2 separate regions of the Homo sapiens genome follow, and region 2 is linked to region 1. Evidence: fine-mapped expression QTL. Tissue or cell type: lung. Region 1 holds a variant in brackets; the other region holds the start of a gene. All regions are shown on one strand. Distances are between the middles of the regions.

What was found. PIP is the estimated chance that this variant, and not a neighbour inherited with it, causes the effect.
Region 2: it holds the start of LINGO1, and the variant in region 1 is fine-mapped to the expression of LINGO1 in lung (TOPMed, PIP 0.94).

The regions. Positions count from the first base shown.
Region 1 is chr15:77,867,655-77,872,850 of GRCh38, forward strand. No RefSeq gene overlaps it. Among named protein-coding and RNA genes, the nearest start is that of TBC1D2B, 210 kb to the right of the region's middle. RefSeq lists enhancers at 1,212-1,712, 3,577-4,415. The variant G/A (reference allele first, on the strand shown) is at 2,977.
Region 2 is chr15:77,630,050-77,635,167 of GRCh38, forward strand. It overlaps LINGO1 (leucine rich repeat and Ig domain containing 1), which reads right to left and starts at 2,863. Exons shown (of 2, transcript NM_032808.7): 1 at 2,261-2,863. The coding sequence starts at 2,266. LOC105370906 (a long non-coding RNA gene) reads left to right here. Exons shown (of 4, transcript XR_001751806.2): 4 at 236-412. RefSeq lists enhancers at 1-287, 3,682-4,245, 3,687-3,816.

The sequences.
Region 1 (5,196 bases):
TTGGATCCGTGTGCTTGCACCGTGTGTCTGGGGAGTTGCGCGTTACCGTGCAAGTCTCTGTGTTGTGTGTGTGTGCGCTAGACCTATGTGCACACCTCTATTAATGCAGTATGTGTGTACATGCATATGAGCATATCTGTGTGCCGGCGTCTGTGTGTCTGTGTGTGCAACATACACGCACCCTTGCCACCCTGCACACATCTCCTTCCTGGCTCCCTTGAGCTAGCAGCCTTGTCCCCAACAGGAGGCCCATCGTGCCGCATCTCTGGAGTGATGGCAGTGGTGGCAGTGGCAGTGTGGGTATCAGGAGCCTGCAGGTGGGAAGGTGGAGGTGGCGCAGGGGAAGGTGCTTGCTAATGAGGCCATCTTCCTTGCCAGCCTGAGAGTCGTTGCCACTAATGATCTCTTCAGTAAGCAGCTCCCTGGGGAAGGGTTGCTGCCAGAGCCCTGCTCTCTCCCTCCCCTGGGACTCTCCTTTCCCCACTTCCCCGAATCCCGAGGCGCTGCAAGAGCCATGAGCACCAGGATAAAGCACAGACAGAGCCAGGGGCCAGTGCCTGGTCCCACCAGGACCCAGGAGACTGTTCGCCTGCCCGTCAGCCTGCCACCAGGAAGCCCACCTTGTGATGAACCCTCTGTGTTAGGGCACAGTCTCCAAAAGGCCTCTGCAAGTCCACATATGCTTCTGGAGGAAGGGGCCCTGCACACCACAGACAGGGAGTGTGCTTCTGTAAAAGGAGCACTCAGCTGGGAGTCAGGCAGGCTGGCCACTAATCCCAGCGCTGTGTGACCTCGGGCAGGCCCTGCACCTCTCTGGACCTTGGTTTCCTTGTCTGTAAAATGGGGGAAGGCTAGAATGGCTGGTAAATGCTCAGCTCTGTGAGCCATCTGAACCTGCTTTGTTTCACCAATAAGGAATCACCCATAATGCGGGGAGAATAGAGCCACTCTAAACCTAAAGCAGGATTAGATGGTACATGGAGCTGAGCATTTGCTATTTTAACTTTGTGTTTACTTTCATGGATATATTTCATGTGTATATTTTCACATATATGTGTATATGTATGTGTCTGAGCGTGTATGTGCACATGTGTATGTGTACATGTGTGCGGGTATTTGACTAGTACATCAGACCCTGATTTCACAAATATGGCTAAAGACGAGGCTAAAACACACACTTAAATTTTAAAAGTAAGCTGATTTTTAAAAAACGCTAAGTAAAGAAGAGTTCCAGTGGCATCTGAGTGTAGCAAAAGTCCTGATGAAACATGACAAATGGCTGCAGCCCTGGCCTGAGTGGCCCTGTCCCCTTCCTGCCTAAGGGACAGTGGATTCGGGGCCCCGGCCTCCCTGGAATAAGAGATACACAGACTGGGCTCTGATCTCCCACCATGTCCTCACAGCCCCAAGACAGAATGCCATGCGGATTGGCAGGAGACCTCGCTGTGGGGTTGGTGGAGCCAACCCTCCAGGCCACAGGCCCCATGAGATCTCTGAGGCCACAGAGCGTGTCCACACGTGTGACCTCCAGGGTGATGCGGGCCAGGGCACACGAATGGCCCAGGCAGAGGTGGTCTGGGCAGAGGTGGCTCAGGCTGGGCCTGAGGCATCCTGGGGACTCAGCATCACATCTCCTCAGAGGGGCCATCTGAGACTGCTGGGCCCGTGAAGAGGCTTCTCCCCAGTACCCACCTGTCCAGGGGAGAACAGCCAGCCCCACAGCCCCAAATGTCTCTGTCCTCCAAGAGGCCGGATGTGAATCACAGGAATTTACAGCCTGGCCTGGCATGGGATTTACGAGTCTGCCTCCAGCCGGGGCTGGCGGGGAGTGGCTGCTGTCAGCCCCCCATTGCCGTGATGGATGAGGCTGTTTCCTGCAAGACAAACTCCCCTCTGTGGCAGGCAGTGGAGGGAGAAACATCCAGGCCCTAGGGCCAGCCCCATACCTGTCCCAAAGCCAGATTGCTCATGCCCTCCCTTGGATCTGCCCAAGATGGGACATACCACACTCAGAGCCAGAATGGATCTCTGAGGTAACCCAGAACACACACACACACACACACACACACACACACGCACGCATATATACACACACGTGCATGCATGCACATACACAGTACACAGATGAGGAACCAGGGTCCAGAGAGGAATGGGCCTTGCCCGAAGTCACCCAGCAGCACAGTGGTGAAGCTGAGACCCCAGCCCACAAGCCCCCTGGACTGGTCATTTCAGTGTCCGGTCACAGTGGACTGTCATATGGCCACGGGGGTAGTTTTCACCTCCAAACACGGGCATCTCTCCAGAGAACAGACAGTCCTGGGTTTGAGTCCCTGCCCCACCACTCTGTGTGTAAAGGTCATAACCTCTCTGTGCCCATTTCCTCACCTGAAAAATGGGGCTCAAAATAACCCCAACTTACCAAGGTTCTTACGAGGTTCAAGTGAGAGGATGCAGGTAGAGCCGCAGGACAGAGTGGGCCCCTGGCACATGCTCCCTGAGTGGTGACAATGGTTCTCCACCATCTCTCGTGTCTCAAGGGGCCCTGCTGCCTGATTTGCTGCGGGCAGGAGGACAGTCATGGTTGGGTGGAGGAGGAGGAGCAAGGAGAGTTCGAGTGTGGGACTGCAGGGCAGGAGTGAGGCCACTTCCTACTGGAGGAGACCCTGGAAGTCTCCCTGGAGGTGGTGGCGTCAAGCAGAGGATGTAGAACTCTGTTTCTCTTGCTCTGAAGCTGACTGGAGGCTTCTTGAGTGCCACAGGGACAGAGGGAAGCACCCTACACTGCACTGAAAGCCCAGCCCAAGCTTCTGCCCTGGATGACCTGAGGAGGAGTCCCTCCTTTCTCTGGGCATCCGCGAAATGGGGCCAGGGAGGACCAGACAACACGCAAAGGCGCCTTTCTGCTCTGGCCCTTGTGCAAGCTGAAGAAGGCTGTCCAGACTCACCCTCTGCAGTACCCAATTATTGCCACTGGGC[G/A]GAAGCAGGGAGTAAATCTGCGGTCCGGCCTCCTTTCCCTGCCGGCCAGTCCTTCCCTGCGCACCTGGTGATCTTTGCTCCTCCACCCGCCAGCCAGCTCGGCGGAGAGCCAGAGCTGAGGGTCCTTCACATCCAGACATCTGATGCTCCCCACAGCCCTGCAGAGAACCAGCATGGTGGCTGCATTTCAGATGGGGAAACTGATGGCCAAGAGGTGAGGACTTGCTCAAGGTCACGCAAGAGCCAAGTGTGCCCACAGCAGAGGCGGTGTGAAAGGAGACTGCGGTCACACGGACCTGGCTGGGATCCTGGTCCCCTCACCTCCGGCTGTGTGTCATCGGGCAGGTCACCCACCCTCTCTGAGCCTCAATTGATATAAGTGCTGAACACATGAAGCCACCACTTTGTTTCCAATAGAGTTTATGCCCCAAGAGTGCAAAGTCATGTCTGTCACTCACCTCAGCACCCCCAGAGCCTGGCACAGGGTGGGATTCAGAGAATAGCGCCTGCCTCCCGGGGCCTGCCTGGCACTCAGCAGATGCTGTGTCTCCTCAAAACCCCCAACAGCCCTGGATCAGCGTCGCCTTGTTCCCCTCCCATCAGTCCTTCCTGCAGGACACCGACCCACCCGGCCTTGAGGGGGGCTCCTGCTCACCTCCCCACCCCATCCCTCTCGTCCCCCTTTCTCTGTTCTGGCCTCTCCCTTGTGTCCCTCTCTCCTGCCGAGCCCCCACTTGGCTCTACGCTGTTTACAAGACAACGATGACAGTTTTTCTTTCTCTCTTTTGTCTCCCTTCCTCCCCTGAAGGGAAACGTGCTTCCAATCTTCCAGGAAAAAATGAAGGCTCCGGATGAGAAAAAGCAAACAAAGGACAGTGGGACCGTGGGTGTCCCCACCCCCGCCACCTGCAGGCCCCACATGCAAACCAGCGCCCGTGCCCACGCCCGTGCAGCCATCCTCCGCCAGGCCCCAAGAACGGCTCTGTTATTTTTGGGGTAATTGAAAATGTCGATCTTTATTCTAGAGGATAAGCAGGTCACAGGGACACAGGGAGCCAGAGAGAGAGAGAGAGAGAGAGAGAGAGAGAGAGAGAGAGAGAGAAAGGAAAGCCAGTCATGGGGGAGGATCTGGGGGAGAGAAAGGCCAGATGGGAGGACGTGGGCACTGAGAGGAAGAGGGAGCGGGAGAAACGGCAGGGGTGGGCAACTCCCTGCCAGTGAGCAAGGCCACGCGGCCCCTGACCCCAGGACTCAGGGGGATGTGTCCTCCCACCAGCTCCTGACCCCACCCTGTAAGGAGCTGGTGGCAGGAGCTCCTGTTTAGTCCTCCTGTGCCTGAGCAGCCCCGAGGGTGGGCATCTCTGAGTGCTGGGAGCAGGAGTGGGGACCTGGCTTGTCTTCATGGGAGTGCCCTCTCATGACCACGTGCACAGCGCCCAGAGGCCAGGCCCCAGGCTGGAGGGCTGAGAGCAGCCAGCGGTCCCCTCTCCTGGGGGAATGCAGGGACTCTTCTGACCTCCCTCCCATCAGCCATCCCACCTCTCTCTGGATGTGGCGGCATCTCATGGTTTGTGGACTTACTTCTCCAGGGCAGTGGGGGGCGCCAGTGAGCCTGGGTGGGTGCATATCTGTGCAGGAGATGAGATTCCTGGGAGAGAGGGACGGGGTGGGGTGGGGGGAGTAAGAGGTGTGGCTGTGCATGGCGTGGGGCCTGTGCGCATGTGTGGTATAAGTGTGGGTCGCGTCTGCTTTTTCCCGTGACTAGCATGAAGCATGCGTTTGAAGGCAGTGGTGGTACCAGGTGTGTGTGTGTGGAGTAAGGTGTGGGTCTGTGCATTTGTGTGTGTGTCTTGCTCCACGTGTGTGCGGTAAGGGACATGTGTGTGTGCACAGCCCCTACCTGTGTGCCTCCAGATGGTGTGTCCATGTGTCCCTGCAGGCAGGGCCCCTCTTCTGCTCCTGGCCCAGGGCCACCATCCCCCCAGGTCCTGGGAACCAGAGTGGCAGTTGGCCTTGGGGTTCCCTCCAGCAACAGTGGAACAACAGAGACCAGCCCCCACCCCAGCCAGTGTCCAGGAGGCTCGTGGGACTGTGATGTCAGCACCAAGCCCTGGCTGAGGTAACCCAACATGGAGCCAGGCCTGTCTTGCCCCCTAGAGAGAAGGGAGGAACCTCAGGTGGGCCTCCTGCCAGGCAGCGAGCCTCATCCACCCTCCAACG
Region 2 (5,118 bases), 240 kb before region 1:
AACCATGGAGGTGGGTGGGGCTGGAAGGCCACTTCCACAGAGTGCCACACACAGGACAGCTAGCCCAAGAGACTCCAGCCAGCAAGCTAAGGCCCTGACTCTGAAACCACCACACCTACTACCCACCGCCCCCCACCCTTCCCTGGCTCCACTTCCCCTACCCTCCACTGGACACGCTGCCTCATGCCTCCGTGGGACCCTGCACGAATGACTGCACTGCCTTATCTCCCAACAGGAACACGCCCCAACCCCAATTGTGCTTCTCCAGATATCTGCGGCTGAAGGCGCCTGAAGAGCAGCACCACACATGAGCCCTCACCGGCACCAGGGATCCCGTCTAGCCTCATGCAGAACAACCACCCACCTCCACAAGAGGTTGTTTTTTGGGGGGTTGGGGTGGGGGAGGTGTCCCTCTGGGAGTCTGGGTTTTAGAAAACAATACCCAATATAGGAGAAATGGATGCCCAGAGGACAGAGGATGAAGATGAGCCCAGATGAAAGAGGACTATCGCAAGGGGTAAGTCTCTCCACCTCCCTCCCAGTCACACAGGGCCCTTGGCTTTGAGCACATGCCCATCCCCCTAAAAGCTGGTTCCCACTCTTTAACTCCAGAACCTGGGGAACACTGCAGCTTTAACTAAGCCCTACCCAGGGGCTCACACTTAAATTGTCAGGGGGTGAGGAGGGGGGCAGAGACAAGAACACCACAGGGTGCCTGTCCCTGCCTTCGCTAAGCCCCTTCCAGGAGGGGCAGCTGGGTGCTGCTGGGATCCCCGATGTGAGTCTGTGCCCTCTTTCAGCACGGTTCCAAGGAGTTATTGGTCTCTCCCCGGTGCCACCCTATACCCTCCCTCCCACCTCGGGCCACGGGTAGAAAGCAGGAAGGACAGGCATGCCATCCCAGTAGACCTGCTGCTAGTGCCTTCCCAGAGGCGTGAGGATTTTGAGCTCCTCCCTGGCTTATACAAGGACAAAGGGTCTGGGAGCAGCTGGCCCTCTTCTCCTCACTGACACTCTGCGCTGGATCTGGGGAAGCCCCAGGCTCTCTGCCGCCTGGGTGTCCCGGCTCATTGCTCCCTGGGCATGGGAGGCACCAGTGCTGAAGCCACTGGCATAATGACCAACAGGGTTGAGCCCAGAGCCGCGGGCCAGGCTGGGCTATGCGCCCTCTGGCTGCCCAAACCAAGCAGAGGACTGAGGGAGGGCTGGGCGAGCAGGAAGGGGCTGTCCAGATGCCACAGCCCCTACCTCAGGGCCTCCTGCACTCCCACCCGCTCAGGGCAGAGCTCTTCCCATCCTCTCAGGCCCCCTTCTGCCCCACCCCAACCCCAAGGCCTCTGAGAACAAAGAGGAGGTGCAGGCACAGTCAGGCTGGACCAGGCTGGGCTGCGACCCCAGCAGGAACCGGGAGGGGCTGCCCACTGGCCTGGCCCCACCCCTCCTTCTCAAAGTGGGATCCGCCCGGAGGGTCACATCTCCTGGCATGCCTTGAGAGCAGAGAGCCCACAGCCCACCCCGAAAAGGGTGTGAGGGGGAGCAGGAGGCTCCCTCCTTACCTCCCTCTTCTCAGCTGGTTCCCACCTCCCACCCGCTCTGCCTTAGAATGAAAAGTGGGGCAAGAGGAGGTGAGAAGCCCGGGCTGAACGCAGACAAAGGGGAGGCCCCTAAAGCGTTCCTGGGCGCTCCCGGTCCCCAACTCCCTTCCTTCCACTCTCCCTACTCCCCATCTCCTTTTCACTGGGCAGGAGCTGGAAAGGGGCGATGCTTGTGTGTGGTGGGGAGCTGCCATCCAGGCTGGAGCTTGTGGAGAAACCCAGCCCCTGACCTGTGTCCACCAGCTAGGGAGTGTCTGGTGCTGGTGGGGGCTGCCTGGGGGTACCTGGGGTCCACGAAGGGAGGTACCCACCCAGGGCTGAGCAGGGGGCTTACCCTCTAGAGTGACCAATACTCAGAATGGGAGGGGGGACAGGAAGGGGAGACCAGAGCAGGTCTGGGACACCCGTGGGGGCCCCTCCCCAGCTCCAGGCTCCCAGCTTACAAACCCGGAATTTGTTGGGGTTGGAGAGAGGGGAGGTGGAAAAGGAAGAATTTTCATTTCTGAGGCTTGAGGGGAAATCAGGCCTATGACCCCAAAGGAGGTCTGGGTGGCACCGAGGTGCCCTGCAACCCCAGGAGGGCGCAGCCAGGGCCGATGGCGGCCCCCAGGGGCACTCGCCGCGGGGCTGCCCGCTCGGGGCTCGGCCGCGGCCGCCTGGCTCACCTGCATCTCGGGCGCGCCTTCGGTCCGCTCGGCTCGGTCACCAATCGCATGTCTCTCCAGCCGGCCCGACCAGGCCCCAGCCCCTGCCCAGCCCCCTCCTCCGTTTCCTCCTCCTCCGACACCTCCGCCCGGCAGTCCGCGCGCCCTCGCGGGGCTGGCTGTCCGTCTGTCCGCCCCGCGCGGGCGGGAGCCGAGCCGGAGCCGGGGCCGGGGCTCGGGAGTGGGGAGGCGGGAGGCCGCGGCCCCGGCGGGCGGATGGGCGGGCGCGCTCAGGCCGCGGGACAGGGGCTGCGCGAGCCTGCTTCTGCCCCCTGGGCCGGCCCGGAGCCGCCGCCGCCGCCTCTGCCGCTGGGGCCGGGGTCGAGGCCGGGCGCGCTCCGCCGCGGGGCCGGGGCCGGCGGGCAGCGGCCGCGCATGCTGCTCGGCGCCCCGCGTCGGGAGAGGGGCCGGAGCGGCGCGGGTGGGGACTCCGCGCCCTCCGGGGCCGGGACCAGGACCCACCGCCGCCGCCGCCGCCTGCGCTGTCGCCCGCCGCCCGCTCCGGCTCCCGCGCCGGCTCCCGCTCGGGCTCCGCGCTCTGCAGCGGCGCGGGGAGGGAGCACTAGGAGCGAGCCAGGGAGGGAGGAGGGATCGAGGGAGGAGGGAGCGAGTGAGCCGCGGGAGCCGGGCGGGGGAGGAGAAGGCGCGGCCGCAAAACCTGGTGATGGTGGTGGTGGGGTGGGGGGTGGTTCGTCTCCTTTCAGCGGAGGGGGCGGAGAGCGAGGGGCGCCCCAGCCGCTGCCCTGCACGCTTAGGGCAGCGAAACAGGCAGGGGTGCGCAGGCGAGGGGCGCACCAGCCAGGCGCTCCAGCTCTGCACACGGCCGCGCCCCTCCGGGTCCGGGGCTCTGGGCGAGTCCCGGGCCAGCCGGGTGTCGGGGAGTCCGGCGTGCGGTCCTCCCTGGGTGTATGCGCGCACACCGTTGTGTGTGATTTTTGTGTTGCCACATGCGTGTGCATGTGAGCGCGCGAGTGTGTTTACACGTGTTAACTGGGCTGTGGACGAACACACGCACGAGGACGGACAGGGCTCCCTACACGAACAGGGTTGTTTGGAGGGCGGCATGGGGAGGCCGACCGGGAGCCCCCGTCCTGGCCCTGTCCCCTCCTCTCGAAAGTCCGCGAGGCTAGAGGGCCCACATTCTAGCGCGGGAGGGCGAGGCAGGCAGAATGGGAAGCTCCAGGGGACGGCGAGGAAGCCGCGCTGGCCCGGCAGCTCTACCCAGGAGCCGGGGTCCCCGCCCAGCCTGGCTTCCTGTCCAGCAGAGGGCGGCAGGCCTCTCTGGCCCGCTCCGTCCGGAGGCCCTGCACCCAGTGGCCAGCAGAGGGCAGCGCAGAGCCTCCGCCTGGGCTTGACTGTTCCCTCCTCCCGGAATGGTCCCGGGGATCCTCGGCTGGGGCCACAACTTCAGACGGGCCCAAGGAATGGGACCTCTCCTCGGAGATCCAGATCCTCCTTGATCCTCAGATACAGAAACTAGGCCAGCAGGGATGTCTTGGCAAAGCCTGCAGAGTAGGTTACCACCCTCAGGACCTCACCTTTTTCCCTATACTACCCCCTCCATCTCCTTGAAGCCAGACGCCCTTTACCACCAAGCCAGTTTTATTAGAATAACCATCAATGCTGACACCGCCCGGCACGGCCATCCCTCCTCCCCTGCTGGGAACAACCCATTAGCACATGAATACTCCTAATAGCTTGAGTCCACAGGGGCAGCTGAGGCTGGGGGAGGGGATCTAGCCCAAAGCCTCTCGGATTCTGGGGCAGACGCTGGAATCCCAGTTCCAGTGACACCCCCTCTCCCAGGAAGCCTGCGCAACATCATTGCAGAGATGCCTGGTTGCCACGGAGGGACCTCTCCCCACCCCCAACAGCACCTTGTTTCTCGCTGTTCAGCCTCACACACAGCCCAAAGGCTTGCACAGACCTTCTGTTCCAGCTGCACCATTTCTGGGTACTTCTCAGTCTCTCTGGCACACCGTTGCTCTGGACAGTCCTGTCTGGAGCACTTTCTCCTGTCTCCTATGTCTATGCCCATCCTCAACCTAGGCCTAGCTAGAGTCCCTCCTAGCAGGCGTCCATGCTATGCTCTACTGTGAACTGTACGTTCACCCTCCAGCAACTCTGGGGGAGGCACTATTGTTCCCCTGTGACAGAGGGAGGGAAGCCCAGGCCCAGAGAGGTTCCAGGCTCTGCCCATGGTCACACAGCCAGCAAGCCACGGAAAGGGAACTGGACTCGTCTTCTATGGCTGAATGGACCAGCAGGGGGCAGGCTCGGCAGAAGGACTTACAGGTGGGAGGTGAAGCAGGGAGGCCAGCACAGGAGTCCCCCTCCCTGCCAGAGCCCAGCGCAGGCGACTCCCCGGTCCCTCAACTCCGCGCTGCCTGGACCCCTCCCCAGACTCCCCAGCCCCCCCACCCCGGCTGTTTGTGAGCTACCCGTGCGCTCCCGCCCTCCCGCGCCGCCTCCTCCCACCAGCCCGACAGGAATAGACGCTCGCTGGCTCCTGCGTAAAGGCTCCGCCAGGCACCCGGCGGGCGCGCAGACCCGCTGGGGGGCGGGGGCGGGGGCGAGGGCTATTCCTGGTGCGGTGACTGACGCAGGCAAGGCGCGGCCACCACATCTCTCCGCCCCCGACTCACCTGCTCCCTGCCTCAGTGATCTCGGCGGAGAAATGGGGGAGAGCCCACTCATTCCACCCCGCTAACCCCCAGGTGCTACCGGAGGAAGCTGGGGTCCTAGGGTGGGGTATTTTGGTGCCCACAATGATCCCTCCGCGCCTCGGAGGCAGCAGGGATGACCACGGAGCTGTGTCT